Regions from separate parts of the Homo sapiens genome. Here regions 1, 2 and 3 are each reported to be linked to region 4. Evidence: microRNA targets listed by miRTarBase, many of them from high-throughput screens and not tested one by one. Region 4 holds a microRNA gene; each other region holds the end of a gene's coding sequence.

Region 1 (7,116 bases), not on the chromosome of region 4:
TAGCCAGGATGGTCTCGATCTCCTGACCTCATGATCCACCCGCCTCGGCCTCCCAAAGTGCTGGGATTACAGGCGTGAGCCACCGCGCCCGGCCCCCTAATTTTTGTATTTCTTAGTAGAGACGGGGTTTCGCCATGTTGGTCAGGCTGGTCTTGAGCGCCTGACCTCAGGTGATCCACCCGCCTCTGTGCCTGGCCCCCCAGCTCTTTTCTGAGGAACTCTTCTGTTGGAGTGATGAGCTGGCGTGCCTTTCAGGGCATGTAATGGGCTGATGGAAAAGGGCAAGACCTGAGTGGGAATGGCAGGTTGGCTATGGTGTCAGGGCCAGCAGACTCCTAGCTCTGCCTCTGGCGTCCTCATGCCATTCTGGGCAGGATGGGCAGGTGGGTAGCAGAAGGCAGGGAAGCCCACACTTAGAAATGTCCCAAGGAAGCCGGGCACAGTGGCTCACGCCTGTAATCCCAGCACTTTGGTAGGCCGAGGTGGACAGATCATCTGAGGTCGGGAGTTCGAGACCAGCCTGACCAACGTGAAGAAAACCCATCTTTACTAAAAATACAAAATAAGCTAGACATGGTGGCACATGCCTGTAATGCCAGCCACTTGGGAGGCTGAGGCAGGAGAATCGCTTGAACCGGGAGACAGAGATTGCAGTGAGCCGAGAGCCATTGCACTCCAGCCTGGGCAATAAGAGTGAAACTCCATCTCAAGAAAAAGAAAATGTCCAGAGGACCCCCCATCGTATGCCTCACAGCCTGGGATGAGAGGACACTGGCTTCTGGATCCCCCTGGCCACTGGAGCGGCCAGCGTGTTTCACCCATTAGCTCTTGCCCTTTGAAGTGGGGAAGCTGAGGCCTAGAAAGGGAAGGGTCTTGGCCAAGCTCCCAGCTTGGTGTGTGGGACACCTGCTTCCCAGGCCTGGCCCAGAGGAGGAGGGGTAGTGGAGACTGCCCACCCCCAACCCCTCCATGCAGTAGAGAGATGACAGGAAGGAGAAGCTGGGTGTGGTGGCTCACGCCTGTAATCCCAGCACTTTTGGAGGCCGAGCGGGAGAACTGCTTGAGTCCAGGAGTTTGAGACTAGCCTGGGCAACATGGCGAAAACCCATCTCTACAGAAAATACAAAAATTAGCCGGGCATGGTGGTGCACCCCTGTAGTCCCAGCTACTCAGGAGGCTGAGGTGGTAGGATCACCTGAACCCGAAAGGTGGAAGCTGCAGTGAGCCAAGATTGCACCACTGCACTCCAGCCTTGGTGACAGAGCCAGACCCTTCCCCCCAACCCCCAACCAAAAAAAAAAAAATGTCAGGAAGGAGAATGAGGTAACCCAATATGAGACCCTCCCAGGATTCCAGAGCCTGCAGCGCAGAAGCTGGTTTCCACCCTGGACCAGAAGATGGTGCTACTCGCTCACAGGTCAATGCAGGTGTCAGCTGCTGCCTCACTGGAGTTTTTTTTTGGTTTTGTTTTTGTCTGTTCTCGGGGGCGGGAGAAAGAGATGGGTTAGGAAGTTGTAGGAACCCACCTCTTGGAAGGCCTTGGGTTTCCCCACTTCTTTCCTAACCTCACCCCAGGCCTGAAGTTGGCCTCTTTCCACCATGGTCCTCCAACCTCTTCCCAGGCCAGTGCCTAGGAGGGATCCACTCCCACAGGAGCCCCAAGCAGAAAGAACCCCTAAAGTAACTGCTGGATCTTTTCCGGGTCCTGTAGCCTTGAGAAAATCTGATTAAAAGATGTGTCCTCTTGTTTCCTTACTTATGGAAAAAGAAAAAAGAAAAGATGTGTCCTGTCAGGCACATTGGCGTGAGCCTGTAGTCCCAGTTATTCTGGAGGCTGACTGGGAAGGGCTACGTGAGCCCAGGAGTTTGGGGCTGCAGTGAGCTATGACGGTGCCTGTGAATAGACACTGCATGCCAGCCTGGGCAACATAATAAGTCCCTGTCTCTAAAACAAAAATATCAAAAATAATTTGTTGGCTGGGCGCGGTGGCTCACGCTCGTAAACCCAGCACTTTGGGAGGCCGAGGCGGGTGTATAATTTGAGGTCAAGAGTTAGAGACCAGCCTGGTCAACATGGTGAAACCCTGGCTCTACTAAAAATACAAAAATTAGCCAGGCGTGGTGGCACGCGCCTGTAATTCCAGGTATTCGGGAGGCTGAGGCAGGAGAATCACTTGAACCCAGGAGGCAAAGGTTGCAGTGAGCCGAGATTGAGCCACTGCACTCCAGCCTGGGTGACAGAGAGAGACTCCATCTCAGGGGAAAAAAAAAAAATTGTAAAAAAAAATGTTTTTTCTTTCAAGAGCATACAAGTGTCCCTATCATATAATTCCACACCCTTTCAAGGAGCTCGTGACCCACACCCTTACCACGTAAAGAATCCCTGAGCAAACCCAATGCTTGATTTTCTAGAGGAGGAAACAGAGACCCAGAGGAGCCAGTGACTCTTCTGCTGTGCTCAGCAGTGCGGCAAACAGGCCGGGGGTGGGGGGGCTAGGCTGGCTACTGGCTGGTGGCAGACACAAGTGGGGTGTGCAGAACCTCAGTGCTGCACGAACACTGGCGCCTGACTCTGATTCCCAGGCTGCAGTCTCCCGACGTGGGAGGGTGTGATTCAGATTGGGGTGCAGCAGAGGCACTGAGCACAGCTGCTACTGCAGGGCTGTGAGCTGGAGAAGAGGGTACAGAGGGGCCTGGCCTCCTTCCAGTACTGCCTCTGAGGCTACGGCAGGGCTAACCTAGGCTGGCTTCCTGCAAAGCACAGGGAGGCTGAGGCTGCCTTCCTTGCACTCCTCAGCAGGTGCCCCCACCTGCCCAGGCATTGGGTGGACAGCGGGTAAGAATGGGGGTGAAGAAGGTTGAAGGGGCCAAAGGAAGCAGTGCTGGCAAAATGAGTAGGGTTGCACCGAGGGGCTCATTCTCTCTTCTCCCCACCTCCAGCATCCATCTCTCCAGACTCCCTCCTCTTTCTGCATCTCCCTGAAGTCCAGGGAACCTTCATCCCACACAGTACAAGCCAGGTGAAGCTCAGCTTCTGTGTAGGGGGGCATGAAGGGCACATGTGGGTCAGAGACAACAGAGCCAAATGGTGGGATTTGGGATCACCAGTAGCTTCCTAGGCACCCTTTGCCCCAGACCAGTAGTGTTGCTGGTCCGTCCACCCCCAGAGTGGGCACAGAGGAGGGCAAAGGCTACAGTGGGGCACCAACTGTTCCCAGGCCCTAGGCTGTGAGCATGCTGCATGGGGTTCAGCCACCCAAAAAAGCTGCTGTGCTCAGCAGTGCGGCAAATAGGCTGGAGGGGGATGGGCGTCCAGGCCAGCTGCCGGCTGGTGGCAGACACACAGCTGGGTGTGCATAAGGCGTGGCTGCAAGGCTCTCAGGCTCTTGATCCCTGGAGCCTCTGGCCCAGCGTCTCAGGGTGTCTCTGTCTCCATTTTGTTAGTTTAAGGCATTGAGGAAGCCAGGGCAGGGGAGGGAAAGAGCTGAAAGGAGAAGAAAAAGCCGCGGTTTCCAAGACTGGCTTGATCACTCATTTTGCTGTGTGACCCTGGACAAGTCATTAGCCCACTCCAGGCCTCAGTTTCCCCATGTATAAAGAGGGCAGTGTTGAGCTGGGTAATCTGTGTGACCTTAGATAAGCCACCTAACCTGGCTGTGCCTCAGTTCTTCCCTGTGAGAGGAGGACACCCCCACTCGCCTCACAGGATCCTGGAAAGGATTAAGTAACATCAAGTTCCTGGCACGGTTCCCTGGGCACAGTAGGTGCCTATTTATGAGTTCCCTCTCTTTAAGCATTCACACTGGTCTTGTGACCCCTTCTTCCACTCCCAGGGCTGGGGATCCTAGGAGGGGGAGGGTCACCCTCCTTTCCCGGCTCTCTCGACCCCCAACCTCCAGGGCCTTCCTCAAGTCAAGGAGCCCAAAGAAAGCTCAAGGAGGGGACCCAAGGTCTGGGCCCACCTGGCCTACCTGGCTCAGGGGGCGGGGGCTGTAAACCGGAACCGGTGGAGGAGGGGGCGCTCATCAGGAAAGGCAGCCCCCACTCTGCATCCGGGCAGCGCCAGCAGTGCCCCAGCACCCCCGCAGCCCGCCTCTCCTTGGCGCCCCGCTCCCCTCCGCCTATAAATAGCACAGGACGTGCTCGCCGTGGCGATGACGCGGCTGGGCAGGCGGAGGGGAAGGAGGCAGCTCTGCCAGAGCGGTGGGCGGCGAGCGCGGCGGCGGGAGGGGTGCGGCCCCTCCATGCTGGGCTCCGATGACAGGGGCGACTGAGTCATCCCGGGGACCCACGGGCCACGACTGTCCCCGCCGCCAGCGTTTCTGTCTCCGGCTTGGGGGACTGCGGGGACGAGGCTGACCTCGGATGGGTACTGAGCCCTCCCAGACCCCCGGCACGCCCGGTCTCGGAGGGCACCTCTGGGTGGGCAAGATCGGCCTCGACGGCCCTGGCGCGCAGGAGCATGTCCGCCCCTGCGCGACTCAGGTGCACATGGAGGCGGAAAGTGACCGCAGCCCCAAGCCGTTTCCCTCCAGCGTCCCCAGACCTCCTCCCACTTTCCTCAGGTCCCCTTTTGGCTCTCCCCAGACCCCACCCTCCTCGGGCTGCTGGAGGAAAGGGATGAGGCCTGGGACCCCTGCCATGTTGCCGCCTGCCCAGCACCCCTCCTTTCAGAGACGGAGGAATTCTTCCACCCTCAGCCTTGCCCCTCTCAGCATCCCCAGACCCCACTCCCCACTTCCCTGCCCCTTTCCTTCCTCTGTCCCAGTGAGAGACACAGAGCAGATGGGCTGGGACAAGAAACATTTAATTAGGGGTCTGGGGAATCAGCAAGGCCCCAGACCCATCATGCAGCCTCATGTACAGTGGGCATTGGGCCCGCCCCTGGGATATTGCTGGGGGGGGGGGCCTCATGGCAGCAAACAGGGCAGTGTGGCTTGAGACCCCGCTTTGTGGGGGAGAAGTGGGGCAGGGGCCTTTGGGTACGAGGGTCTGTGTTTCTCCCACTGCATGGGAGGGTGTAACTGTGCCCAGGATGGGGGTGGCATGGGCTGGCACAATCAAGGGCATAAGAGGAGGATCTGAGCTTGGGGGAGGGAGGTTGGCACCGAGAAAAGCAGCTGTATTAAGAGAGGGGTCCTCTCTGTGTATGCCCACCCCACCCCATTTCCTGGTGGCCAAAACAGAACATTCCACCTTCCTTGTCTGTCTTCCACCCCCTCTTTTTCCCAGGGCTCTGTGTCCAGAACAAGGGAGCAGATAAAGCCAGCAAAGGGGCTCCTGCAGCACCTGCCCTGTCCCCTGCAGAGCCTGGAGAGAAGCAGGAGAAAGGTCAGCCCAGAGGGTTGGGTTCCTGGGGCGGCCGGGCAAAGCCTGGGACAGGAACTGACAGTCACAGGCTCCCCTGGCGGGTGGTTCCTGTGTGACCGGGGGTCCTGACAGTGAAATGGGTTTGCTTTGACCAAGCACGGGCCAGGATTTTGTTCTCAGTTGGGTTTCCGTGTGTCCAGGCAGCTCTTGGGTTTCCTTTTCTTTCTTTCTTTTTTTTTTTTTGAGACGGAGTCTCGCTCTGTTGCCCAGGCTGGGGTGCAATGGTGCAATCTCGGCTCACTGAAACCTCCGCCTCCCGGGTTCAAGTGATTCTCTTGCCTCAGCCTCTGGAGTAGCTGGCATTACAGGCAGACCCCCATCATGCCTGGCTAAGTTTCGTACTTTTAGTAGAGACGGGGTTTCACCATGTTGGCCAGGCTGGTCTTGAACTCCTGACCTCAGGTGATCTGCCCACCTCAGCCTCCCAAAGTGCTGGGATTACAGGCATGAGCCACCACACCTGGCCAGCTCTTGGGTTTTCTACTTGAACAGATAGTCTCTGATTTGTTACACCTTCCAGGGACCTCAGCCTTCCCCTCATCTGTCCGCCCAGGTTTCAAGTAACGGGAGAGATTCCTGCAAAACTTTCCTGAGAATTGACGGAATGACAGAGGTGGAGACCAGGAGGTGGACTCAGGACCTTCCTATGGTCCTGGGTCCCCTCCCCACCAAGGGTGGAGGGCCGAGGACACAAAAAGGCCTGCTCCCAAGACCCCACTTGCAAAGGAGCAGATGCACGGTCACACACACATAGACCCAAGCAGAGGCTCTGTGGGGAGAGGGGTGTGCCAGGCATGCGCAGGTGGTGTGGGCAGGGGAAGGCTGGGAGAAGCAGCAAATAAATTCCCCAGGAATCTTCCCCAGGGCTGGACTCAGCCCAGCAAGTAGACTGGGGTGCCTGGGCGTTGGGTGGACCTACCTGTAGCTTCCTCATTCCCTCCCACCCCACCCCATCCCCGCCAAGTCCCAGAGGATCAACCCACTCAGGGCACCCCACCCAAGAAATAAAATCTTCCCCAGTACAAAAGGCTCCTAAGCCACGGTAAGTGGCACCTAGGAGAGGGACAGAGGGAGGAAGGGTATGGAGTGGACAAGGGGGCCTGATCCCCTCCCTGGCCAGAAGCAAGGTCCAGGCATGGGCAAGGGTGTCATCTGGGTTCCCTTGGCTCCTCTCAGATCTCAGTCAGGGCGTCGACTGGCACCAGGCCCCGCTTCTTGCCACTGCTGACGCGGATGAAGCCGTCAGCATCCTTGCTTCTGCCCACGCCCACGCAGATCTGAGCCAGAGAGACATGGAGCTGAGGCCTGGCATGGCCTGCAGCCCTGGCCCTGAGTCCTGCCCATGGCCCCCAGGGGACCCACCCTGGGGGATGATGGGACCAGTGTCAGATGTGGATGGAGCCCTTTGCTGGAGTGATGGGACCAGATCCCAGGAGTGTAGAGGCCTCAGCAGCAAGACCAGCACGTCAGCAGACACCCAGCAGCACTTCAGGGCTGACCTTGGAGATTAGCCGCTGTACTGCCCTGCCTCACCCCCATCACAGAGGAGGTGGAGGGAAAAGGACTTGCCTCAAATTACACAAAAAGCCAGAGCTAGCATTCAAACCTGAGCTTTAGACTCTGAATCCAGTGCTCCTGCGCTAACCCAAGCTCCCTCTAATGTCATTCAGTCTCCTGTCTCTGTTGGTCACCAGCCCAAATTCCCCAGCAGGGGCTGGTAGGAGGGCCCTGCAACCCTTTCTTTCT
Region 2 (7,116 bases), not on the chromosome of region 4:
AAAAACTAAAGCATTTCTTAATCTGTGGGGTCCAGATTAGGAAGACATGTATTAGGAAAATGATTACTTTAAAAAAAATAAAAAATTCAGGCCAGGCATAGTGGCTCACGCCTGTAATCCCAGCACTTTGGGAGGCTGAGGCAGGTGGATCACCTGAGGTCAGGAGTTCAAGACCAGCCTGGCCGACATGGTGAAACCCCGTCTCTACCAAAAATACAAAAATTAGCTGGTTGTGGTCACATATGCTTGTAATTCCAGCTACTTGGGAGGCTGAGACAGGAGAATCGCTTGAACCCGGGAGGCAGAGGTTGCAGTGAGCGGAGATCTCACCACTGCACTCCAGGCTGGGTGACAGAGTGAGGCTCTGTCTCAAAAAAAAAAAAAAAAAAGAAAAGAAAAAAAAATCAGAACCACTGAATTGTACATTTAAAAAAGGAAGAAAAGAAAAATCCAGGATGTCAGCACTGTGCTGGCCGCTTCCTGGGGCCCTCAGTGAGTTCCTTTAAAAGACAGGCTTAGGGTGACAGAGGCCAGCCTGGAAATGGACAGGAAACGCCAGCCTTTCCGCTGCGGTCCAACTTGGGCTGACGCCCTCATCGCAACAGGAGAGCCCTGCAGGGTTGAGGCAGGAGGGTGACCGGCGTTAGTCTTCATTGTAAGATTGCAGGTCCCTCTACATGGGAGCGAGTTGGGCCAGGGCAGAGGCACAGAGCAACATAGACTACAACTGGTCCAGGAGGCAGAACGGTGGAGGGTCGCGGGCGGGTGGGTGGTGCACCCTGGAGGCCGCGTGGAGCTTCCCAGTGAACTGGCATGAAGAAAAGTATCACAGCCCGATGGTGGTGCTGTTTCTGGAGGTGGGGAAGGGTGCGTGGAGGAGCCAGCCAGGCTCGGAAGGAAATCAGGGGCTGCATGTGGGACATGGCAGGGCTGAGATGTCACGAAGACAGCAAATGGAGTGATCGACTGGCGACCTTGGCGTTTGAGTGGGAAGCCCCCCTCCCTCCACCTAACCTACCTCTCAGCCCACGCCACTAGGGATAAAACACACACAGGTCCCCAGTGAGGAGGATCGCAGGGGACGGCACCTCCTGGGCCCTCATGGAGAACCTGTCCCTTAAGTAGGCCAGGCAGAGGGAGAGCCCCTGCCGGCTAAGGGAGCCCTGCCCCCCACACCAGCCCAGCTGTGCAGAGGTGCCTTGGCCAGGGGCGTGCGTGTAGCACTGTCTTCATGTCTGGGCAAGGAGCTGGAGGAACCCTGCCTGCCTCGGTTCAGACGTCTCTACCGCACCCACTCACTGCAAATGTAGAGTGATCAGCTTCCAGGCTCTCGGTGTACCCCACATTGCTAAAGCCAGGGGTTCAGGGTGACTAGGAAGGACTGAAGGGCAAGGATCAGACTTGAAAAACATGTTAAATTGCTAATAGTCTGATTCTAGGGGTGTCAAAGTCCCTTTGTGATACAGTGAGTTGCTCCCAGACACAGACCAAATGCCACTACAGGACGGAAGCTGGGCAGGCAGCGTGACAGTGACCAGCTTCCCAGGCAGGAAGGTCCCACGGGGGTGCTGCACTGCCTTAAGTTTATTAAGCTGTGTCTGAGTCCACCATGCGACGTCTCTGCCCTCATGCCTGGGCTGCTAAAGGAAAAATACCAGCTAAAAGGATGGTGTTTGATGTCAACTGGGAGGGTGCTGCCCGGCACACCTGTGTTTTCCGTCACCTTCCACTCCATTCCCTTCTATGTCCATCCCAAACGCTAAACCCAGCACTTTGGGAGACTGAGGCAGGTGGACAGCTTGAGCCCAGGAGTTTCAGACCAGCCTGGGCAACAGAGCGACACCTCATCTCTACAAAAAATAAGCAAAAATTAGCCGGGCATGGTGGCATGCACCTGTAGTCCCAGCTACTTGAGGGGCTGAGGTGGGAGGGTCACCTGGGCCTGGAGGTCAAGGCTACAGTGAACTGTCACTGCACCACTGCACTCCAGCCTGAGTGACAGAGTAAGACCCTGTCTCAAAAAAACCAGAAAATTATTGGGTGAGAGCAACCTAAACTTCCTCCCTAACCACTTACAACGTACCCCTTTCTCCTTCATCTCTCCCGTCCCAATCCCTCTCATCTGGCTTCCATCTCTCCTCTCTGAATTTGCTTCCTCTCAACACATAACCCTGCACAAACCTCTCTCGTTTTAAAAGCAAAAACCCCTCCCTAAGGCCACGTCATCCCCTATCCACTTCTTGCCTCTTGCCAGCCTTGCTTTCTGAGAACTAGTCTACGTGGTGTCCGTATCTTCACCTCCCACTGGTATTTTATGGTTCTATCATACAGACACATAGTTTAGAGCCAACAGTTATGTAAGACACCTACCAAAAAGCTCCTCCACCTGCCCGTTCCCCCTCCCAAAAGGAAACTTTTAGAAATCTTTCTGCTGAGTGTCTCGGTGTGTGTTATGCATCTCCAAGATATCTCTAAATGATGGGCTCACATGGGCTTCTGCTTCCATGTTTGAGTTTCAGGCACTGTGACTGACTTCCTGCCGCAGAGGCTAAGATTCGGCTCGTTCACTCCACATGTGCACACAGCTCCTACCTGCAGAACACGCCCACCCTTATGAAGGCCATGAAAGCAGGTACACTCCACTGAGCTGGTGGTGGGGGGGGTCAATTACAGTTCTCTCCTACACAACCTGTCGCCTTCCAGAGGACTAATCATTGCCTTTTTCCCCCCAGGCTACGTCCTGCGCTCTGTCACCCAGGCTGTGGTGGTCAGTGGTGCAATCATGGCTCACAGCAGCCTCAACCTCCCAGGCTCAAGCCATCCTCCTGCCCCAGCCTCCCAAGTAGCTGGGAACAAGGCATGCGCCACCACACCTAATTTTTTATACTTTTTGTAGAGATGGGGTCTGCCTATGTGGCCCAGGTTGGTCTTGAACTCCTGGGCTCAAACAATCCTCCCACCTCAGCTTCCCAAAGTGCTGTGATCACAGGTGTGAGCCACCACGCCCGGCCAATGTGGGCCTATTTTCACCCATTGTCCTGGGCATTTAATGAGTCATTTCAATCCAGAAACCCTTACCATCAGTTTCAGGTAATTTTCATAATTAAAAAAAATGTTTCGGCCAGGTGCGGTGGCTCACGCCTGTAATCCCAGCACTTTGGGAGGCCGAGGTGGGCAGATCACGAGGTCAGAAAATCGAGACCATCCTGGCCAACACAGTGAAACCCCATCTCTACTAAAAATACAAAAAATTAGCCGGGCATGGTGGCATGTGCCTGTAGTCCCAGCTACTCAAGAGGCTGAGGCATGAGAATCGCTTGAACCCAGGAGGTGGAGGTTGCAGTGAGCCGAGATCAAGTCACTGCACTCCAGCCTGGGCAGCAGAGAGAGACTCCGTCTGAAAAAAAATTAAATTTAAAAATTCCTTAACTCTGTTGTCCATTTTCTCTTCCTGCAATTCCCATTCACAGATGCTCAACTTCTTAAATTGGTTCCCTAGTTTTTTTTTTCTTTTTTTTTTTTTTTTGAGACAGGCTCTCGCTGTGTCACCCAGGCTGGAGTGTGGTGGCACAATCTCAGCTCACTGCAACCTCCACCTCCCGGGCTCAAGCCATTCTCCAGCCTCAGCCTCCTGAGTAGCTGGGATCACAATCGTGCACCACCACACCCAGGTCATTTTTTGTAGATGGGTTTTGCCATGTTGGCCAGGCTGGTCTTGAAGTCCTGAGCTCAAAGCGATCCACCTGACTCAGCCTTCCAAAGTGCTGGGATTACAGGCATGAGCCACCACGTCCAGCCTCTAACTACTTCTCAATCTTTGTTTTTGCTCTACTTTCTAGATTCTCAACTTATTATTTTAACAGTTCTACTGGGTTTCTTTTCATATTTTTTGCTCCAAAATTTTATTTTATTTTTATTTTTTGAGACGAAGTCTTACTCTGCGTCCCAGGTTCAAGAGATCCTCCTGCCTCAGCCTCCTGAGTAGCTGGGATTACAGGCACATACCACTACACCCGGCTAATTTTTGTATTTTTAGTACAGGGTTTCACCATGTTGGCCCAGGCTGGTCTCGAAATCCTGATCTCAGATGATCCACCCGCCTCAGCCTCCCAAAGTGCTGGGATTACAGGCGTGAGCCAATGCGCCCGGCCCCAAATATTATTTTATACATATCTATCCTGCTACTCTATGGAATGCACTACCTCCTCCATTCTCTGAATGTGTTAAAGATATTTAGATGTTTTCTTCTCCCTGTACAGACAGTTTGCTCCAAGTTGATTCTTTGGTTTTGACCTCTAGCCTTCATCTTAGGGGCCGGGTCATCTTCAGATGTTTGATGATCCTGATGCCTCCAGGATCACTGCTGCCTCCTTCCTGTTGTCTTTGCCCTTAAGGGTTAAAACACACACACACATACACACACACACAACTTTTACTGCCCTTACAGTATGGCTTCAGAAAGAAACCATAAATGAACACATACTTCTTAGCCCTCAAATTTTTCACTCACATTTTAGGCCACAGTGGTCGGCTTCTCACCTAACTGAAACTGATCAGCTAATGTCAACTGACCTTGATAGTGCTGGTTAAACACCTGCCCACCCTTGTTTATTTGGTCTATTTACTGCACTGGATGCTGAAGATCCCCTTTTCCTGAACTCCCTCCTCTCCGGAGCTCAGTGGTGCTCCATCACGAGGCTCCTCTGGATCAGCTGTCGCTCTTCTTAAACCCTCTTCCTCTCTTCACCCCAAGCCTCGTGTCCGCCGGCTTTGCTTCTCGGCCCTCTGCTCTTCTCATTGTCTAAACTCTCCTGGATTAACTCGGCGAAACCCTTCAAACTGCACCACCACCTACACACCGACAACTCTATAAAGTCCCCAGGTCCAGCCAGGCCCTTTGCTGCAGGACAGATGTGTTCACCCAACAGCCTCCTAGACGGTTCCACTCAACATGCTGAAAACCAAACTGATCACTGCGTTTACACAAACCTGCTATAGCTCCCATTTTCCCTGTCTCAGTGAAGATGACCTCTACCACTGAGTGTCCCTATCATGATCCCAGTACTCCAGAAATCCGACCGATTCTACCTTCTAAACATCAAGAGCAGAAGTTTCCCAACTTAGCATGCATGAGCATCACTTGTCAGGCTTGTTATGTACGAACAGCTGGGCCTCAACCCTGGAGTTTCTGATCCTGTAGGCCTGGTGTGGGGACTGAACATTTTTATTTCTAACAAGTTCCCAGGTGATGTTGCCGCTGCTTGCTGGAACCACACTTTGAGAACCACTGATCTTCGCATCCGTTCCCTCCTCACCAGGCCCCACAGGCGCTGTGGTCCAGCCCATCTGGGGTCATTTCTTGCTGAGATTATGATCCTGTTAGCCTTGTAATTTATCTGACCTCCTTAAAACATTATTGTTATTTGAGACAGTGTCCCGCTGTCACCCAGGCTGGAGTACAGTGAGCTGTGAGGTGACCACGGCTCACAGCCTCAACCTTGGGCTCCAGCAGTCCTCCTGCCTTGGCTGGATTCAGTGCTGGGGTTACAGGTGTGAGCCACTGCTCCCGGCCAAAGTCTCATTTTTGATGCCTCAGTTCCCACCCAAGACATCACGTCTCATACTCTGCTTCCTGTGTCTTGTGAACAGTGACAGTGCTGTAGGAAAGAGTAAGCTGGAAAAAGAGAAGGTTCAGAACGACAGTGCTGACGCAGACATCACACAGCGGTATGCCAGTGCTATGGTGCCTGTTTAATTGAAATCTTGTAATAAAAGTTTAAATACATAAATTTTTTTTTTTTTTTTTATCAAAAGAACATCCCCCACTTCCCTGACCAGATACATCCAGAGGGGAGGCAAGTGGAGACTGGCTGTCTGTAGGGAGTGGAGAAATGGCAGGTCCAGCTTGGGCTGGTGTCCTCTTCCTCAGAAAGTGCTGTGGGTGAACCCAGAGTCTCAGGGAGCAGAAGCCCCCCTCGCTGGCTTTCTTCACGCGGGGTCCTCGGCAAGCTGCTCTGCACTGCGGAGAACGTGCGCCTTGTCCTCAGAAGACGAGGAAGAGCAGGGCCTCATGCCGGGGCAGTACGATGTTCTCCACAGTGCGCTCCATGGCGCGCACCTGCTCCGGGGAGGCTGTCAGGAACGCCAGGGGCCCGATGCGCTGCTCCGCACAGGAGTGGCAGAGGTAGCCCCCCTTGTTTTCCTTCCTGTTGCTCTGTGGTGATGGACAAGAGAGAGAGCTAAGGGGAACAACCAAAGAACATGGATTTTCCAGCAAAAAGCATGGAGTTATCATCACAGCTGCCCAGGGACAACGCATTTGGATTCTGATGTTTTCAGAGGGGTGCACATCCTCAGAGTAACACCTCCCACAGCACCACCAACTAGGTGGCCTCAACACCCCCAAATTCCCTGAGCTCAGAAACAGTCATTTATCCAGTCAAGATAAAGAACCAAGAAAAGCTGCGCTGGGACCCCAGGGAACAGCTCTCTCTCTAAGCGTGTATCACAACCCAGCCTCCCAGACCTGCGGCTTCAGCACAGCCAGGCAGCATCACGTGCCCTGACCTCTGACCCTGGGACAGACCACACACCTCTTGTGCCTCTCATATGAAAAGCCCCTAATAAAGGATCACACAGCTCTCTCTTATCTCCTCACCTACAACCCAGATAAGCACAGAGCTCACAAGCAAAAAATGCAAATGGCTGAATTAAGTTCCACAGACAGCAGACGTACATAGGTGATGGGCAGCTTCTTCATGGTAAGGACGGTGTCAACAGGGATGGCATTGTTGCACTGTCCCACGCAGCAGCGCACCACGCCTGTTTTTAAGACGTTGCTTGTCAGCTCTGCTTGCAAGAAGTACTCCTGAGAAAGAAAGAGCGAGAAAGAGAGTCATGGCGACACCTCCGTTAGGGTCTACTGGAAACACTGATAGCGGCGGCTCTGTGAGAACCCTTTAGATGCACTGTAAGTCCCAGAGAGAAAAACCCCGCCTAACCCGTTCTCCCTTACTTCCTCTAACTTTTCCCTGCCTCCAAAGCTATCGACAGTCCAACTGACAGTCCAATTGCTTTTTAAATATATATATATTTAACAGATAAACATGCAAAACT
Region 3 (7,116 bases), not on the chromosome of region 4:
TTCATCTTTATAAATATCTAATTAACTTATGCTGGTATATCATCAGACAAAAAAGCTGTCAGTGCTTTCTTTATGTTATTTAAATAAGGATTGGATATGCATAACTCACTGATTCATATATATTTACTTGTTATTTTTATTTAATTATAGGACTAATCTTTAGTCTTTAAATTTTTAATTTATTTTTATTTTTATTTTTTGTTTTTGAAACGGTGTTATTGTCACCCAGGCCATCATGGCTCACTGCAACCTTAACCTTCTAGGCTCAAACAGCCCTCCCACCTCAGCCTCCCCAGTAACTGAGGCAGTCCTCCCACTTCGGCCTCCCAGAGTGCTGGGATTACAGGCATGGGCCACCGCTCGTGGCCCCCAAATTGTTTGTATTCTTTTATTTTTTTTTTTTTTTTGGCCAGGCGCAGTGGCTCACGCCTGTAATCCCAGCACTTTGGGAGGCCAAGGCGGGCAGATCACGAGGTCAAGAGATTGAGACCATCCTGGCCAACATGGTGAAACGCTGTCTCTGCTAAAAATACAAAAATTAGTTGGGCATGGTGGTGCGCGCCTGTAGTCCTAGCTACTTGGGAGGCTAAGGCAGGAGAATTGCTTGAACCTGGGAAGTGGAGGTTGCAGTGAGCTGAGATCACGCCACTGCACTCCAGCCTGGCAAAAGAGTGAGACTCTGTCTCAAAAAAAATTTATTATTATTATTTTTTTATTTTTTTTAGGATATGGGGTCTCACTATGTTGCCTAGGCTGGATTCAAACTCCTGGGCTCAAGCAATCCTTCTGCCTCAGTCTCCTGAGTAGCTGTGACTACAGATGTGCACCACCATGCCCAGCTTTTATATTATTTTTAAAAATGTCTATACACGTATTCTCTTCATGAAGATGCCTTTTAGGAATTAAAATTTCTGATCATATACCTGAATGAGACCACTCTTCTGGCAGTCTCTCTGTATTAGTCTGTTTCCCTATTAAATATTTTTCTTCATTTTCTCCCAAGGGAGGTTTCTCTTGTAGCCGTGTAGTCAGTGGGATGAAATACTATGAGATAATTACTTGAAATGATTTTCATATCCCCCAATCTAGAGCCTAGATAAGCCCAATAACTTAGTAATTTTTTTTTAAATTAGAAAATTGTAATTTTTTTGTCAAAGTAATTCTTGCACATGTTGAAAGCTGAGTTGTTCAGAAGGCTTCTCTATGCCATCGCACCACCTTCATTAGTGGTAGCTCTGTGCCTCTCAGTAATGGCCTTAAACCACTCTTTGTTGATTCATTGACTTTAGATATTAACTGTTGATGTCCTGCAAAGACAGATGGGGACTTGGCTCATTTTCACCACCCACCGCACCTCTCACGCCTTCTTCACTGTTTTTGTACTCCTACTTATAATTTTATTACTTTTTTTTTTTTTTTAAGAGATGGGGTCTCACCAGCTTGCCCAGGCTGGTGTCAAACTCCTGGGCTCAAATGATCCTCCCACCCCAGCCTCCCAAACTGTTGGGATTACAGGTGTCAGCCACTGCACCCAGACTGTAATTTTAAGTTAATACCTGCATGTCTCCACCCTTGCTCTTTCCATTTTCAGCAGCCTCTCGCCCCTTTGTAAGATAAGATGTTGCTGCCTGTCTCCTTCACGCTACCTTTTCTCTCACATTGTCCAGTTATAACATAGCTGTTGCATAACTGGCATCAGTTATCTGTGCTAAGCATCAACTCTAATTATTGAAAACCAGGAGACCTGTTGGCATTAGAGTGACTCTTTACAGGGCCAAGAGGATGCCCTAAGGACATCTCCTGTCTCTTTCCTCCAACATCATAAACCTGTGCCCCTGGAGGAACACATTTCTAGAGTCAAACTTGAGTGGAATTCTCTGCACTCTATTTCACTGGCTCAAAATCATGGCATTTTAAAATTGACTTCGTTGTTAATCCTATCTACCTAGAAAATATGTTTTTAACACTTTACTTGGCTTGCTAATTTCATCCTTCTTTCTTTACCATCTATTCACTCAGAGTCAGTAACTACAACACAAATGTACTGAGCACCTTCAACATCCAGGCCCTGAGCTGAATGCTGGGGAAGGAGTGGGAAGCAGGATGTGGTCCCTGCTGTTTGTAGGCTGCAGGGCAGAAGCTTGCATCCAAGGGTCCTGAGTGTATCCTAGAGATGCGACCAGTTCACAGTTGGATTTTAAAGTGGCGTCCTATACATAGCTCATGAGGGTTGGGAGATGAGGATTCATGAACAGATTTAGACACTGAGTGATTAATGACAATATGAAATTATGGATTTTTATAGACTTGACAATGTGCTTGTTTAACCATTGAGGCCTTCTCTTCTGCCTCTACCCACCACTTACAGGACTTCAAGAAAATGAATCAAGCACATTAAAAAGCAGCTTAGTAACTGTGACTGATTGGAGCGACACTTCAGATGTCTAATTCCACATGTCAGAAGATTATTCCAGAAGCCAGCAGTATTTCAGTATCACAGTGTTTCAGTAATTTGCCTCCATGATTCTAGTGCTTCTGCCTTACCGTGTTTCCCACAGCAACACAGAGACTGATTCAAAGAACAATGGTCTCTTTAATGGCACCCAATACAGTATTGAAAATCAGATCATCAACAGTATTTCGAAGCATGTAAAGGTGTTTAAGACTTCCGCTGCTGCTTAAAAATAACATGTCATTGAAGTCATAAAAAGTTTTTTCTTCAGAAAGGTACTCTAGTGTTAAGTGTATTTTTTTCAACTAATTTTTTAGTGAATTTTTTTTAAACTTACAGCATGTTTTGGTTTGAATTACTAAAACTTTAAAAAATATTTTTCTTATGTATGCTGTCGTATCGTAGGCGTTTATATTATAAAATTCTGTTAGTAGTCTTAAAATTGAATTGGTGGAACCACTAATCCTTAAAAGTTAGTCTGGTTATTTTTCATATAGAAGTAAGTTTAATCCGAGTGTGGTGGTGTTCACCTTTAATCCCAGCTACTTGGGAGGCTGAGGTGGGAGGATAACTTGAGCACAGGAGTTCAAGACCAGCGTGGGCAATATAGCAAGACTCCACCCCTCCACACCCCAAAAAAGTAAGTTTAGGATTAGAATATAGCTAGGTCCAATGTTAAATACATTTTCCTGGAGTACATTTGTCACATTCAGCTTTGAGCCACTGTAAGCATGTTACTATTAAATGGTTGGTTATTTTATATAGCATATTCTTTATCTTGGATATTTTATGAATAAAGTATAGTTATTTTAAGTGCCAATTAATTTATCAGACTAAATAGAAAATATTTGAGCCATTACTGAATTCACATATGTATGTTTTTTTTTACTATTTAAAATACCCAACATGTATTATGAAATACCTCAAAAGTAATTTAGTTACATTCTTAAACAATGACATTGTCGAAAGAAAGTTCTTATAAGCTGTTTTTTGCATTTTTATAACTTGGTTATACTATATTCTGTTTCCAAGTAACCTTTTAACTAAAAGATTTGTTGGGTTTTAGATCTCTTTTCATTTGTCAACCTTTTCAGTAAAGCCCTCTGTTACATCACTGTGACTGTGGCTGTGTTATTAGAGATGAATTCTGAGTTAAATTTGTACTTATTAGGGGTCTTACAGAGGGAGAATCTGGCCTTGATTGCTATGCCATATGACATTCTGTCCTAATGGTTAGAACAAATCTTTATCTGTTTCCACCCACCCTGGGATCCTTTTTACTTGTAGCCCATTCCTGCCCTCTAAAAGAATCCTTCCAACTTCCTATAGGGGCCATTTCATGCAGATATACTCACTTTATATGTATGTTTCTAAAAGCTTTAGTGAAGGCTGAATCCAAGTTTCATGTAGTAGGACAGAGAACAGAAGGCCGAATCCAAGTTTCATGTGGTAGGACAGAGAACGGCAATCTACAAAACTACACCAAGCCTAAGATGGCCCATGTGCCACTTTGTTCATTCATTTATTTATTCAGCAGATATTTATTGAACCACTTGGTCTGGTTTGGTTTTGAACACGCACTAATTCATTTAATTACAACAACTTTGCGATGTAGTTATTGTTATAATCCTCATCCTAAAGGTGTGAGAAACAGAGTTATTAAGTAAGTTGCCAGAAGCCATACAAGTACAAAGTGTCAAGGGGAGACTTTAAGCCAGGTCTCTATTCCATGTTTTGTGTCTGCCATGTTTTCATTCCTGAGCAGAAGAGCTTGGGGAAATGAACTTTTGCTAAGTAAACCCAGTATTTAAATTAAGTCACTATATCTGTGTCTTTTAAGAGCCCCTCCTTTAGCTTACATGGTTAGTTGTATCTTTTTTTTTTTTTTTTTTTGAGACAGAGTCTCACTATGTTGCCCAGGCTTGAGCGCAGTGGCACCATCTCGGCTCACTACAACCTCCGCCTCCCAGATTCAAGCGATTTTCCTGCCTCAGCCTCCCAAGTAGCTGGGATTACAGGTGCCCACCACCATGCCTGGCTTAATTTTTTGTATTTTTAGTAGAGATGAGGTTTCACCATGTTGGCCAGACTGGTCTCGAACTCCTGACCTCAAATGATCCGCTGTCTTGTCCTCCCAAAGTGCTGGGATTATAGGCGTGAGCCATCGCGCCCTGCTGCATTTCATTTTTTTGTATAAAATTTGGTTTGTTCGTTTTTGAGGGGAACCATTCCTTTATGTTGCCCCTTACTGATGCCCAACTAATGTGTTTCTGGTTACTAACAGACCTTCATCCCCCACCCTCCCTAAATTCTTCGGTGTAATCTAAGCGTTATCTGCACCACTTCTGAATAATAAATGTGTTTGAAATGCACACCTACACAACCCTGTCCCACACTGGCCTGTAGGACCTAATCTACCTTCATGTCTTTCAGTTGATTTGTATTTCTGCAAAAGATATTTCAAGGATTATCAAGGTATGGAATTTTTTTTATTTTTTATCTTTTAACAAACTTGTTCATTTCCTTTTCTTTCCATTGAGCACCTCTGAACAATGTGATTCTTTTTTTTAAGTCTTTCACACTTCAGGAAAATACTACATTCACCCACGTTGTGATTCATATCGGACAGTTTCTTACTCAAAGATAACACAAATACCAATTCTTATTCATACTTTGAAACTATATTTTACCCTAGACTGCCTTGGTTCAAAGGCCTAGTTTCGACATTACTGTGGCAAATTATTTAAGCTCTCTGTTTTCATTTCTTTTTCTGTAAATGCAGGATGAAAACAATATGTATCTCCTAGGATGGCTGTGAGGAGTGAGTGAGACAGGACATGAAAGGTGTGTATGAACTGTGATAACTGTTGCCCTTGTGGGCATGTTATATAGGGCTGGCTCTAGGAAGAAGCCTGTGTCTTTTTTCAGAAATCCCTGGAGCAACTTAAATGTCTTTAGAAATGACAAGTCTCTCAGTTATCCAGTTAGCCGTAAACAGGTTCTGGAAGACACACCTAGATAGAACTCGGCCCGTCAGTTCTGAGTGAGGCACGTACCACTTGGGCTTGGGATGTCCTTAACCCATTTATGCCTGAGGTTGCAATTTTTTGAATTTTTCCAATCACACCTTGGCGATGACCTTGAGCAGTAGGATATAAATAACTCCCACATGCTTAGTGTTCCAATAATGGAACACTAGGCATAAACAGGTTTTAATTGGCTCCTCAGTCAACCATGACCAATATCTCTATCTCAGCTTCTGCTGATGCCCTAGCTCAGGGCTCTGCATTCCGTGCCAGGGACGCCTCAGCCCCTTAACATGGATGTGCCACATGACAGGCAATAATATATTGGCCCCATTAGCCCTTCCTGGAGCAGTCATAATGAATTACAGTCATGACAGGCACATGTAAGAAACCAAAATTTGCTAAATATGTACATGAGTCTTCATCACAGCATCGTTTATGAAAACAACTAAATATTCACTAATGGTGCCAGTGGAATAAATCAGAGAACATCCCCTGCTACGTAACTCTCTGCATACATCAAAGAGAATGGTGTGGCTTTGCTTTTTCAACAATCTACTGAGTGGCCATGGGCATGTGGATATGGCCATGAATGAGCAAGATCCTCTCTGATCCTGTAGAAGTTAAGTTCTACCAGATAACTTGCTGCTTCAACAAAAAGATTTACCTTTTTAAATAAATGTTGTAGAATACTTAAAAAAAACAAACTAGAATTTGCCTGTGTGCAGCCAGTAACATGTCTATTTAACCTGGACACCTTTTGAGGAATATTCTCAGATTGCCCCCATGCTGTTTATAAGACATTGTTCCTTATACACCTGTTTATGAATGAAAAGAAACATAAGGAGTGGGTACAAAGACTTCTATCTATGAATGATTAAAAAGGCTAGAGTACGAATACTTCTTGAACCTTTGGTACTAAATGCTTTTCATGTTCTATATAAATGTAGAAAACATTTTACAAATCCTGTAAATAAACTGTTTATTTTTTATAGAAAGCCACAACAGAAAATGATTAGTATATAACTAACTATGTAAGAACACTTACATCCATACAATCAACAGATGCTTCAAATGCATATTTTAAAAATAGTTTTGAGTGTTAATTATGGGAGGGCCTTGATGGGATCATTTTGTGAACAGTTCGCTTTTATAACAAACTCAAGAGGCAGCTTGCCAGCGAGCTCTTTTAGACATAAGCATTTTTATCAAACTGTTTTGAAGGGTTTGTTGTTTTAAAATCTTCTCCACCATGATACTTTGTCCGAGAAGACATGACAGATGTGGCCCCGTTGTATGTGTATCTGAAAGGTAAAACATAGTTTGGTAGATTCTATTCTACACATAGGGCAAACAAAAATGGGAAGAAACTGTTTCGGCCTGTCTCTGCCAATATCTAAATGTAAATCTTCCTCTTTCTTAGATAGCTTTCTTCTCTCCTCTTGCCCCAAGAAGTATTTTCAGTGTCATTTCTGAGTGGGATGGAGAATCTCTGCAGAAGAAACTCATGACTTGGTCATTTGTTCAGTTATCCTCTTACAAAACCATGTTTTAAAACTCACCCTCCTGGAAGCTAGGAGACTTAGTAGAGGCCATCAACATTCCTGCCTACCTAGAGGAAAATTATGATGAGGCCAA
Region 4 (7,116 bases):
ATTAAATAATTACTCCCATTCCCCCTCCCTCCAGCCCTGGACAGTCACCATTCTACTTTCTGTCCCTATGAATTTGACTCCTCTAGGGACCTCATATAAGTGAAATCATATAGCCTTTGTTCTTTTGTACTGGCTTATTTTATTTAACATAACGGCCTCAAGATTTATTCATGTTGTACTGTGTGTCAGAATTCCCTTCCTTTTTTTTTTTGTTTTTTGTTTTTTGTTGTTGTTTTTTTTGTTTGTTTTGAGAGAGAGTCGCACTGTGTCTCCCAGGCTGGAGTGCAGTGGTGTGATCTCGGCTCACTGCAACCTTCACCTCCCGGGTTCGAGTGGTTCTTGTGCCTCAGCCTCCCGAGTAGCAGGTATTACAGGTGTGCGCCACCACACCCAGCTAATTTTTGCATTTTTAGTAGAGATGGGGTTTCACTGTGTTGGCCAGGCTGGTCTCGAACTCCTGCACTCAAGTGATTCTCCTGCCTCGGCCTCCCAAAGTGCTGGGATTACAGGTGTGAGCCGCTGTGCCTGGCTGGAATTCCCTTCCTTTTTAAGGCTGAGTGACATTCTGTTGTGTGTAGATGCCACATGTTGTTTATCTGTTCATTCAGGGATGGACACTTGGGTGCTTTCCATCTCTTGACTGTTGGGAATAATGCTGCTGGTGACATGGTTGTGCACTGTCACTTTTGACATAGCAGCCAGAGGGAATTTTTAAACATGGGAATCAGATCATGTCACTCCCCTACTCAAACCTCCCCATGGGCTTTTCCCAGCACTTACTGTAAAATCCAAAATCCCTATCTAGACTTACGAGGCATGATCTGGCCTCTACTGGCCCCATGATGTGACCTCCCGTCTTTCTTCCAGCCTCGCGGCCTCCTCCTTTTTTATTTTTATTTGTTTTCTCTGTTGCCCAGAGTCAAGTCCAGTGGTGTTATTTCTGCTCATTGCAACCTCCGCTTCCTTGGTTCAAGCAATTCTTCCTCAGCCTCCCAGGTAGCTGGGATTACAGACGTCCACTACCATGCTTGGCTTATTTTTGTATTTTTAGTAGAGACGGGGTTTCACCATGTTGGCCAGGCTGGTCTCGAACTCCTGACCTCAGGTGATCTGCCCGCCTTGGCCTCCCAAAGTGCTGGGATTACACACATAATGGGGTGGCCACAGGCATGGCAGGACCAGAAAGGAGGCCACGACCAGGCATGGTGGCTCACGCCTGTAATCCCAGCAATTTGGGAGGCCGAGGTGGGCGAATCACTTGAGGTCAGGAGTTCGAGACCAGCCTGAGCATCGTGGTGAAACTCTGTCTCTACTAAAAATACAAAAATTAGCCAGGTGTGGTGGCGGGCACCTATAATCCCAGCTACTCAGGACGCTGAGGCAGGAGAATCATTTGAATCCAGGAAGTGGAGGCTGCAGTGAGCAGAGATCAAGCCACTGCACTCTAACCCGGGCGACAAAGTGAGATTCTGTCTCAAAAAACAAAGACAGGTGTACTGTGGAGTTGCTGAGAGCAACTGGTGGCGGGGACACAGGCCCTGCCCTTGAGTACTTCTTGAACTCTCAGCTCACTGCCCTCCTTCCTGGTTCTGGGAAAATGGAAGCGCCTGTCCCAGTACCTGCTCTTGGTCCATGCGCTCTGCTCCCCTGCCTTTGCCGAGGTGACTGTCCATGCTGCCACCTGGACCCTGGCCCTGCTCCAGCGTGCTCCGCCCCTCTGCTTCTGGCTCCTCCAGGGTTTCCTTCCTGTGATCCTCTCCCTCTCTGTCCTGCATCCTCATCCTGCCCCTTAGCATGAGCATGAACGTGCAGGAAGCATTCTGGGAGCTGGTTGTATCTCATGCTCCCTGCACCAGGCACCGCTCCGAGCTGTGCTTCCTGTTCCTCCCGCTGACTCCTTTGCCCTTCATGATAAGCTTATTAGGTAGGCACCACCATGGTGCCCATTCACAGATGGGAAGGCTGAGGCCCGGTGAGACAGAATCTTACCAGCAGCTCACATCCAGTCGGGGTAAAGCCGCTGTCTGTTATTTCTCATCCCGATGCCACATTCCTACCTTTAGCCCACATTTGCTTCCAGTGACTGCCTGTTTTCTCGATAACAAAACTTCCTCTTCAAAAGGGCTGTCTAGCCTCGTTGCCTTCAATTTCTCTCCACTACTATTCCTTTTCTTTTTCTTTTTTTTTTTTTTTTTGAGATGGAGTCTCGTTCTTTCACCCAGGCTGGAGTGCAGTGGAGCAGTGATCTCAGCTCACTGCAACCTCCGCCTCCCAGGTTCAAGTGATTCTCCTGTCTCAGCCACCTAAGTAGCTGGGATTACAGGCATGCACCACTACACTCAGCTCATTTTTGTATTTTTAGCCAGAGACAGGGTTTCGCCATCTTGGCCAGTCTGGTCTGGAACTCCCGATGTCAAGTGATCTGCCCGCCTTGGCCTCCCAAAGTGCTGGGATTATAGGCATGAGCCACTGTGTCCAGCCTCCACTACTATTTCTTAAATCGGGCTTCAGCTCCCAGCATTTCATCAACATGGCCCTCAGTTGGGTCATCAGTGGCCTCCGTGGTGCCAACTCCCCAGCTTAGCCCTCATCCACATCTTCCTTTGAGTAGCAGGGGACACAGTGGTCACTCCTGAAGCACTTTCTCCCCTGGACTTCCAGCCACTTGCTTCCCGGTTCTCCCCCATCTCTGTTGGTGCTCCTTCCCAGGCTTCTGGGGAAGGAAAGGTCCTTGTTCTGACTGCTACACCCCTAGGCCTGGGACTCGGTCTTCTGACTCCTCCTCTCTATCTTCCCTCTATGATCTCCCAAACGCTGAGGTGTTTGGACACTTTCTCTACTTCTCCATTTGTATCTCTAGCCCGCACCTCTCCTCCGAATTCCAGACTTGTATATCCCACTGTCTTCTCCACATCACCATGAAGTTATTAACCTTCTGTCCGAAATCAAGGTCCTGATTTCCACTGCTGTGCTCCTCCTGCAGTCTTTCCTGTCTCCATAAATGGCAACTCCAAATACTAAATAGGTCAGGCCATAAACTTGCTGGATTTACCATCCAGCTACATCCTGATACACCCAACATAAGTTGAAAATACTGTTTAGGCCGGGTGCGGTGGCTCACGCCTGTAATCCCAGCACTTTGGGAGGCCGAGGCAGGTGGATCAGGCCAGGAGTTTGAGAACAGCCTGGCCAAGATGGTGAAACCCCGTCTCTACTAAAAATACAAAAATTAGCTGGGTGTGGTGGCGCACGCCTGTAATTCCAGCTCTGTAGGTGGCTGAGACATGAGAATCGCTTGAACCTGGGAGGCAGAGGTTGCAGTGAGCCGAGGTCGCTCCACTGCACTGCACCCTGGGCAACACGGTGAGATTCTGTCTCAAAAAATAAAAAAAGAAACATCCTAAGTCGAATCATGGTAAGTTGGGGGCTGCCCCTACCTCTCCCCAGCTGAATCCTAACCGATGCCTCTGCTTCCCCTCAACTTGAAGCAGCCAGAGGAGGAGTTCTGTAAAAATATGTGGCTGATGTGGTTGTGTCCCTCCCATTCCCCAGACCCTCCCTGGGCTTCTTAACCTCATCTCCTCCACCCTCGCTGCCTTCCTGCCACTTTCCCCTCCTGGCTGTTCCTCAGCTGAACCATGCACATGCCCACCCCGGGGCCTTTGCGCTTGCTCTTTCATCTCCCTGCGATGTCCTTCCTGGGAGGTCTCTGTGGCTTCTCCATGTCTCTGCTCAGGGTCATCTCACTCGGAGAGGCCTTCCCTGGTATGGCTGCCCGGCCATACTAGGCTCTGACGCTGCTCTCTTGCTTTCTGGCAGGTATCAGCATTCAGTCTTGTATCACGGGTTTTTTTTTTTTTGGTGGCTAGTTCATCTCTTGCCACCTTACAGTGTAAGCCTCATTAAGGCCAGGGGCTTTGTCTGTCTAGTTCCTGGCACATGAAACAGCATCTAGCCCTGTCATAAGGGCTCTGTCGATATTTTTTCCATGGATGGTTGGCTATGCATCAGGGTAGACAGACACTGAAACCAACCAACAGTCCCAGTGACTGGAGGGGCCCTCCTGGCCTGTTTGAGGCACAGTAGGGATGAAGCAGGTGGCCTGGGGTGCCAGGGCTGATCGTCTCTCCAAGCCTTGGCCGGTGGCCACACAGCAGCCCCCAGCCCCTCTCCCGTCAGCTGCCTGGTGCTTTGCCCACACCAGGGTCTCTGGACACCAGCTCTTCCATCACCAGCCAGCCTGAGGCCTTCTTCTCCAAGCTGCAGGAGTTTCGGGAAACCAACAAGGAGGAGTGTATCTGCAGCCATCCTGAGTGAGCAGGGGCGGGCGAGGGTGGGCGAGGGCGGCTGAGCGGCTCCATCCCCCGGCCTGCTCATCCCCCTCGCCCTCTCAGACCCCAGTTGCCAGGCCTGCGTGAGAGCAGTGGCAGCGGCGTGGAGGAAGACCATGAATGTGAGTGCGGGCCCTCGGCTAGGCCGCTGAGTAGTCCAGCCTCGCGCTGCCCTGGCCTCCCCTGCCCCAGAGCAGTCCCATTTGAGGTTTGGGGCCTGGGGAGGCCCCTGAGATGTTGAGACTCATGGAGGGAGGCCTGCAGTCTGGACAGGGTGGCCAAGCCCTGGTAGGGGTGGAGTGAGCTAAGGCCTGGCCACCGAATTAGGGGCTGCCCTGTGTGGCACCATCCCACCCTCCCCAGCAGTGCCCCTGTGCTGGTGGGACTCCATCCCAGCTCCTGAGGGCCCCAGGAGGATGTCCCTCCCCACCCCTTAGGGCGTGGGCCCCAGGTTCTGGGAGGAAAGGGGTTAGGAGGAAATGGGCCGAAGGGCTTCCCAGAGGGATTGGCAGCTTGTGTGGTTGGGGGCCGCTGAGGGCAGCACGGAGCCTGGGGACCTGGGTTCCTGGCTCAGGGAGAGCTGTGGCTTCTCATGGGCCTCGCAGGCGTGTACTGTTACCGTGTCAACCGGCGCCTGTTCCCGGTGCCTGTGGATCCCGGTACCCCCTGCCGCCTGTGCAGGACACCGCGAGACCAGCAGGGCCCTGGGACCCTGGCGCAGCCAGCGCACGTCAGGTGAGTGACCAGAGTATTGGGACACCTTGGGGGACAGAGCCTGAACCACTGGTTTTAAGAAAAGATGGGCCTGGGCGTGGGCCCCCAACCGCTGGGAGGCTCCTCAGGGGTCCCCCACTGCCCCCCTGCGCAGGGTGAGCATCCCGCTGTCGATCCTGGAGCCCCCGCACCGGTACCACATCCACCGGCGAAAGAGCTTTGACGCCTCTGACACACTGGCCCTGCCCCGGGTGAGCAGCCACGTGGGGCTGGATGGTGATGAGGGCGGGGCTGGCTCAGACTGGCCCAGATCCCCAGGGAGGGTCACAGAGCGAGACTGGGCTCGACAAGGGTGAGCGCCCAAGTCTCTGGAGCACAGCCTGGGCCTCTTCCATCACCCACACCTGTACCTAAGGGAGGTAGGACCCCCGCTCCACGTACCCCGGTGCTTCCAGGGTGATCTGCCTGCAGGCTGGCATGACATGAATGGGTCCTGTTTATTGCGCTTTTGTGTACTGCAGGCACAGTCCTTAGGGGGCTTATCTCATGGAGCCCCCACAGCAGCCAGGAGTGTAGGCACTGCTGTACCCCCACCCTGCAGGTGGGGAGACCGAAGCAGAGGGGGAGGCGCCTTGGTGGAGGAGCTGGGATTCGAACCTAGGTCTCTGTGCTGCTGCTGCTGCTTTTTTTTTTTTTTTTTTTTTTTGAGACCGAGTTTTGTTCTTACTGCCCAGGCTGGAGTGCATTGGCATGGTCTCAGCTCACTGCAGCCTCCACTGTAGTCCCAGCTACTTGGGAGGCTGAGGTGGGAGGATCGCTTGAACCTGGGAGGCAGAGGCTGCAGTGAGCTGAGATCTCGCCACTGCACTGCAGCCTGGGTGACAGAGTGAGACTCCATCTCAAAAAAAAAAAAAATGTCCTTTCCTGTGTCTCCAGGTCGGGATGGGGTGCCAGTGGCAACTCCCCCTGACTCCTAAATTGAGAGTAGGGCAGCTGGGGTCAGAGGAGGAGAAGGATGCAGAGGAAAGTCAGTTTGCTGGTCCGTAAAATGGACATAACAGCGCCATCCTCAGGGATGTTGGTGGTGAGGTGGGGCTGTTGAGTGAAGCAATCCATGCAGGTGCTTGGAGAGCCTACAGCAGGAAGTACCCTGTGAATGTCACTGTCACCGTCCTATCCTCCTCCCATTTCAGCTCTCAGGGCCCCAGGGATGGCTGGATCTGCCAGGATAAGAAAGGGGAGAGCTGGGGTAGTCTTGTGGGTAGACACAGGCCCTGCCTTGGTGGGGGCCTCCTTCCTAATGGGGGGCACAGTTCCTCCCTGATGGGGGTGTGCCCAGTCAGCGGGGAGCTTGTCCCAGGTCAGGCACTTTTAACTCCTTGCCTTCCACAGCACTGCCTGCTGGGCTGGGACATTTTTCCTCCGAAGTCTGAGAAAAGCTCAGCCCCCAGGAACCTGGACCTCTGGTCCTCTGTCTCCGCTGAGGCCCAGCACCAGAAGCTGTCCGGCACCAGCAGCCCTTTTCACCCGGTACGGTCCAGATCGCATCCTAGCCTGGGGTGCCCCCTAGAGGGACAGAGACCTCGCAGCAGGCCTGGGGACTGCAGAGCCTCCTGGGGGGTAGGATTGAGGTGGGGAGGATGGAGCCTGGGAGTGTCTCTCTGCAGGGTCCAGCCCTCCAGCCCTGACCCTAGCCATCCCTCGGAACTCCTCTGCTCCCTGCCGCCTGCCCTGCTCCACCCAGGAAGGCCACCCTGACTGCAAGATCCAGGAGGGAATGTGGCTGGAACTGGGGATGACCTGTCCCTTTCAAGTGGCCCCCCTGAGACTTCCCTATTCCCCATCCAGGCCTCACCAATGCAGATGCTGCCCCCGACCCCGACCTGGTCAGTGCCCCAGGTCCCTCGGCCCCACGTCCCACGGCAGAAGCCCTGAGGACTGACTCCTGGGGGAGAACAGCATTCCCGCCGCCTCCAGCCTCTCCCCTCTGGCAGGCGCACCCAGGAGATGGAATCCCCTGCCCGCCCAGCTCAGGCCCAGCTGTCCTAGGTTGGGCAGGTGGGTGGACCCA

What was found. The annotated mature microRNA hsa-miR-6729-3p reads UCAUCCCCCUCGCCCUCUCAG and lies in region 4 at 4,374-4,394, shown strand. An mRNA with a match to its seed (bases 2 to 7 or 8) in the 3' UTR can be bound and repressed. Matches are read on the target gene's strand: a 7mer-m8 pairs with bases 2 to 8, a 7mer-A1 pairs with bases 2 to 7 and ends in A, and an 8mer does both.
Region 1: the mRNA of STAC2 is a reported target of hsa-miR-6729-3p. Seed matches in the 3' UTR shown: 7mer-m8 at 6,322-6,328.
Region 2: miRTarBase lists FBH1 as a target of hsa-miR-6729-3p. Seed matches in the 3' UTR shown: 7mer-m8 at 5,817-5,823.
Region 3: miRTarBase lists CLDN10 as a target of hsa-miR-6729-3p. Seed matches in the 3' UTR shown: 7mer-m8 at 5,968-5,974.

Annotation. Positions count from the first base shown.
Region 1 is chr17:39,205,750-39,212,865 of GRCh38, forward strand. It overlaps STAC2 (SH3 and cysteine rich domain 2), which reads right to left. Exons shown (of 11, transcript NM_198993.5): 11 at 4,792-6,647. The coding sequence ends at 6,543. Among named protein-coding and RNA genes, the nearest start is that of RPL19, 9.0 kb to the left of the region's middle. RefSeq lists enhancers at 1,443-1,702, 3,372-3,461, 3,482-3,611, 3,490-4,156, 4,157-4,823 and a silencer at 4,083-4,192.
Region 2 is chr10:5,936,208-5,943,323 of GRCh38, reverse strand. It overlaps FBH1 (F-box DNA helicase 1), which reads right to left. Exons shown (of 21, transcript NM_178150.3): 20 at 6,737-6,868; 21 at 5,731-6,214. The coding sequence ends at 6,044. It overlaps LOC105376384 (a long non-coding RNA gene), which reads left to right. Exons shown (of 2, transcript NR_188180.1): 2 at 5,815-6,273. Among named protein-coding and RNA genes, the nearest start is that of IL15RA, 38 kb to the left of the region's middle.
Region 3 is chr13:95,577,566-95,584,681 of GRCh38, reverse strand. CLDN10 (claudin 10) reads right to left here. Exons shown (of 5, transcript NM_006984.5): 5 at 4,923-6,782. The coding sequence ends at 6,668. DZIP1 (DAZ interacting zinc finger protein 1) reads left to right here. Exons shown (of 23, transcript NM_198968.4): 23 at 2,369-6,480. The coding sequence ends at 2,448. Among named protein-coding and RNA genes, the nearest start is that of CLDN10, 28 kb to the right of the region's middle.
Region 4 is chr1:12,024,829-12,031,944 of GRCh38, forward strand. It overlaps MIR6729 (microRNA 6729), which reads left to right and starts at 4,330; the gene lies at 4,330-4,394. MIIP (migration and invasion inhibitory protein) reads left to right here. Exons shown (of 10, transcript NM_021933.4): 5 at 4,205-4,313; 6 at 4,395-4,453; 7 at 4,937-5,066; 8 at 5,200-5,296; 9 at 6,438-6,575; 10 at 6,894-7,116. The coding sequence ends at 6,980.